2 separate regions of the Homo sapiens genome follow, and region 2 is linked to region 1. Evidence: fine-mapped expression QTL. Tissue or cell type: whole blood. Region 1 holds a variant in brackets; the other region holds the start of a gene. All regions are shown on one strand. Distances are from middle to middle.

What was found. PIP is the estimated chance that this variant, and not a neighbour inherited with it, causes the effect.
Region 2: it holds the start of PARVG, and the variant in region 1 is fine-mapped to the expression of PARVG in whole blood (TOPMed, PIP above 0.99).

What each region holds. Positions count from the first base shown.
Region 1 is chr22:44,249,123-44,251,848 of GRCh38, reverse strand. It overlaps SHISAL1 (shisa like 1), which reads left to right. Exons shown (of 5, transcript NM_001099294.2): 5 at 2,164-2,726. The coding sequence ends at 2,164. Among named protein-coding and RNA genes, the nearest start is that of SHISAL1, 62 kb to the left of the region's middle. The variant T/C (reference allele first, on the strand shown) is at 1,701.
Region 2 is chr22:44,179,636-44,182,135 of GRCh38, reverse strand. PARVG (parvin gamma) reads right to left here and starts at 1,211. Exons shown (of 14, transcript NM_022141.7): 1 at 951-1,211; 2 at 219-394. RefSeq lists enhancers at 1-493, 494-1,224 and silencers at 601-730, 1,901-1,950.

The DNA of each region.
Region 1 (2,726 bases):
GCTGTGTCCCCACCCAAATCTCATCTTGAATTGTAACTCCCACAATTTCCATGTGGCATGGGAGGAACCTGGTGGGAGGTAATTGAATCATGGGGGCAGGTCTTTCCCATGCTGTTCTCATGGTGAATGAATCTCACCGAATCTGATGGCTTTACAAATGGGAATTTTCCTGCACAAGCTTGCTCGCTCTCTTTGCCTGCCACCATCCACATAAGATGTGACTTGCTCCTCCTTGCCTTTTGCCATGATTGTGAGGCCTCCCCAGACATGTGGAACTGTAAGTCCAATTAAACCTCTTTTGTAAGTTGCCCAGCCTTGGGTATGTCTATTAGCAGCGTGAAAATGGACTAATACAGCAGCCATCACTGCCATCCATCCACAGAACTTTTAAAAAATCATCTGCCCATCCTTTTATAGTAAACCTTTCTGAATCATTCTTGATTTGCCTAAGCGTATCCTTAATAATTTTTTTAAGAAGGGGTCATGGGAACTTTAATTCAAAAATCTGTTCAACATGTTTTTCTGTTGACTTTATTCTTGACAGATGGTTCATTGGGCTTTAAATTCTTGGTTTATTCATTCATTTGACAAATATTTATTAAGCCCCTACAGTATGCCAGTTACTGTTCTAGGCCCTGGCAATGCAGCGATGTGTAAAACACACAATCACCTTAACCCTCTTTTAGCTAACTTTCTATTTGGGGAAGACAAACAATAAACTATTCAAGTAAGTACAATAGGTGGTATGCTGGATGGAGGTGTGTGCTATGGAGAAAAACAAAGTGGGTGATGGAGAGTACCTGGACCTGGCTTAGTTCTATGAAGCAGAGGAGATGGCCCCACAGAATCTCTCACCCTTAGCCCCTGTACACATTCCCACTAATGCAAAGGGTGGAGAGTAGGTTCTGCCTCTTGGCGTATCACTCACTCTGGGGAGGTGGGCTTTGCTGGCTTGGTCGGAGCCACTCCCTTGACTTCTCCATTTAGTTGAAGATGGTTTATCATTTAAGAACACTCACCAGATGCAATTTACGCAAGTAAAAGAAATTCAACTGCAATGGTATGAAGGGGGTAGTTCAGGGCTGCCACCAGAACCAAGTTTCTGCCTGCTTTCTACTCCACCTGTGTTAGTGAGCGTCTTTCATTCTCATGCATGCAAGATAGTTCATTTCCCCCTGGATTCATGTCCCCTTCCCAATAGACTCCCACTTACACAGCGTTAGCCAGACTGGGTCATGTGACCACCCCTGCTTGCAAGGGAGTCGGGGAAGGTAAGTATTTGTGACTGGGCAATTGCTCTTATAATAGACACAGGGCAGTGGGGTTCATGCTGCTTTCCACAGATGGAGTCTGTATTTCTTTTCCTCATTGTCTTGTTTGCAACTTGACTCTGCCAATCAAAGCTATAAGTAAGTGCCCCGCAGATCTGTTTCCACACTGTAGATCTTGTTCCACTGGTCTCCTGGCTTTTCCCTATTCCAGGAGCACCTTGGTCTCTTCTTTATAGCTTTGTATGACATGGTCATATATTAGTGCCATTCCAAAATACATAATGGTTTTTGTCAATATGAATGGTATCTGTATCTGTGTTTAATATTTAGTTTGTTATGGCAATGGTGACCATATAATTTATCAGCCAAATCAGAATACTTTTGAGGATAAAAGGGGAACAACATTAAAAATTATGTCAGAACAAGTGT[T/C]AACTGAGACTGTCCCAAGCCATGACATATAATTACCCTAGTAATTGCTGAGGTCAGTGCACACTGTTGCATTTTATAAATTGATCTGATGTCTTATAGGTTGACTATTATACGTCTATGTCTGCACTCTCCATTCTACTAATTAACCTGTTGATTCTGTTAAATTTTCTATGTAAGTTATCCACAATTAACTGTAATTTTGGTTCTTCTATTCCAGTCCTATTCTATGCTTATTTTTCTTGTCTTATTGCATGGGCCAGAGCTCTAGTACTATATGGAGCTATAATGATAGCAGACATTTTTTTTCTTTCTTCCAGTCTTAAAGTCACATGGTTCGCAATGTTCAGAAGACAAAACCCACATGCTCAGAGAAAACCTGGCTTCTTCCGGCACTGAGGCCAGAGAGAAATGTCCCCATGGAGGAGACACCATGTGATACTTTTTTTCCTTGTATTTCCTCCAGAAAACGCTTTTGCTGTGCCTCAGGATGGGGGAGATGAGATCTGAAGCACCCGGTGCAGCCTCCGAGAAGAACAACTTCTACAGAGATGCCAGGGACAGCCGAGGTAGCGGCGGTGGCACAGGAGGAAATGCTGCCTGTGCCCAAAGCCCCCTTCCGCGGACTTCTAAGATTAGGAGCAAACTCAGGGGTAGGGGCTGGGGGTGCAGGGGAGGGGATTCTGAGCCACCTGTCCGCAAGCAATAGTCCTATTTTGGGCTGGTGGCTTCTGAGAGGTGACTCATTGTGGACTCAGGATGACCAAGACAAAGCAACTCTGGCTGATTCCAGCCAGGAGGATTGAGGCCTGTGAGTTATACCTGTGGTTGAAAACCGAAGCTTCCCTTGCCCCTGCTCCCTCCAGTAGTGGCCCCTTGGGGCTATTTGTGTCAGAATATTGAATGTGCGTGTGTGTGTGCGTGTGTGTGATTTGGGGTGTTCTTTTTGTTTGCTTGGTTGGTTGGTTTTTATTGGGGCTTCCCCCCTCAAGTTCTCTGATGGGCATGAGTCACCCTCCGGCTGGGGGT
Region 2 (2,500 bases), 70 kb after region 1:
GGCAACTCCTCAGTAGAACAGGGAGGGAGGACGCCGAGCAGCCTCTGAGCAGGGGCAGCCGGAGGGGCCGTGGGGACTCAAGGTCCCACTTTACCGACTCCCTTCCCCGGGTGGCCTGGGCTGGGACTGCACTCTGGGATCCTTCCCAGGTGGTGTCTGGGCCCCTCCCTCCGTGACCCCCAACACTCAAGTATGGTGGCCCCGATGCCAGAACTCACCCAACCGCTTTCCACGCAGGAAAACAAAGGCCTACTGAGTGCAAAGGGTGGTCCCTGGATTCCGAATGGAAGCAAGTTCCGGGTTCTTCTGGGGTCTTCGGGGACCAGGCCGGGAGGCAGGAGCCCCGCTGCTCACTTCCTCCAGGCCCGCTCAGCCGGCAGGAGCTTCCTCCTCTCTGCGGCAGGGCCCGAGGGGGGTGGATGCCGTGAAAGTGAAGCTGCCACAAACCTCCAGAAAGCTCTGCCCGGAGCCCCAGCGCCCGCCGTGCCGCCTGGGCCCCCGGGGTTCTGCAGGCCACTTAAACTCAATGCTTTCATTTCTCCCCCTCTCCCCGCCTTCCCCAAACCATGCCAGTTTCCCCGCAGGCTGTTCACCTCCAAAATGGCAGCTACATAGGCCAGAGCCTGGGGTCGACCCCCGCAACCCACCACCAGCACCCTGTCAGCCTGGCCTCCACCCTCCATCCCGCACCGCCGTCCTCCCACCTCCACACCCCGCCCCGGGCCAGGCCCCTTCCTCTCCCGGGACCACGCAGGAGACTCCTACCTGGACTCTCGGCTGCAGACTTCCCCACGCCCCCTGCCCGCCCCTGAGCTGAGGCTCCCACAAGCCCTCGGAGGAGTGAGTCACTTCCTGACCCCACTCACTCAAACCCACCAACGGCACCCAATAGCTCTTAAAATAAAATCCAGGCTGTGCGTGGTCTGTCTCTCTCAATCGCGGTTACATACCCGTGTCTAGAACAATGCTTGGCACAAAGTGGGCTCAGTGAATAAATATTGGTGGTGGTTGTTGCCAAGGGGATCGGGAAGGCTTTCCAGAGGAGAATGGGGCCTTGACGGCTGCATAGGAGTTTGCAGTGGAAGAAGAAGGGGTGAGAACGTGGCAGGTGGAGAAAACAGCGTATGCAAAGGCATAGCAGGGTTCGAGAAGGAGAGATCTCAGCACAGTAGATAGAGAAACACTTCAGACCCGAGCTGGTCTCTCAAGCTGGAATCTTCACCATCCGGGCTGAAATGGTGAGTTTCCCTAGCAACAGGTGACTGGGAAGCTATCTACCCTTTCTGACAGGTTAGGCAGAAAGTGGCTAAATCAGGTGGGATGCAGGTGTAAGGAGTGTGTGAGAGCAGGAAAGTAGGGTCGTTTACAAGAAGTTAATAAAAAATGACAAAACTTAGTACTGGTATTGTTGCTAATATTTATGGAGTCATTGGTGATGAAACAAACATAATTTTAAGGGCTTTCATTTTACTGGAAACTTCCTTGTGAGGTAGGTACAATCATCACCCCCATATTACAGAGGAAGACACTGAGGCACATGAGTCAGTCCCTGCCATTCTGAAGTGCCCGTGCTAGACTGGGGCTTGTAACAGGTGGGGAGAGAAGCCACCGTGCAGGACCTATTTTGCTGGGGCGTGTGTAGCAGGCTCAGCCCAGCTCTGGACACAGTGGTTCTGGTGGTGGCTTCTGACTCTGGATCACAGCCACATAGATGTAGCAGCAGTCACAGTCCCAGCAGCAAAGAGACGGTATATTCCCATGTGCTAACTGAAGACTGTTTAATAAAGGGACAGCTGGGGCAGGGTTAAAGGAACCCAGAAGAGACAGTGCTACACCCCAGGCTAGCAACATGGGGAGCTGTTACTTCTTCAAAACCTAGAGGGTGAAGGAGGGAGTGGGTGGCAGAGCCCAGGAACAGAATCACTGAAGCTCTAAGAGGGGCCTCGGGATAGGAGCTGTGGCCTTTGGTAGAGGGACACAGCCAGCTCATGGTGAACCAGCAGAAGGGCACAGCTGGAGGAATCAATGACCAAGCCTCACTCTCCTCCCTCCTGCCAGGGCCTCCCCTGCCCACATCCAGCCAGAAGCCAGAGAAAAGAAGTCCCCTGCTGCGGCCCATAGATGTGAGGAGAGAAAATGGTGGGGAGTGGATCTGCAGAGGTGAACCTAAAGCATTCAACCCAGAAAGCATGCTTCTAGGGCCAGCCTGACTCGGCAGCTTCCTTCAGGAGCCAGCTCTGCAGTATTCTTCCAAGAGTCCTTGCTGGAGGCGCTGCCTCCAGCCTTCCAACAGCTTGAGAATCACACAGCTTCCTATGTTAGATTCCTTTCTCCTCCAAACAACTGAAGAGACTCTAATCATCGGCAACTGAATCCCAATTAACTTCGGATTTGTTACCAGAAACAATTGCAGGCAACACGACCTCCAGGATGGGAACTGGGATTGGTTACTTGTTCTGGTTGATTTAAAGGCAGTGGGGACCTAGTAACTGTTAGAGAA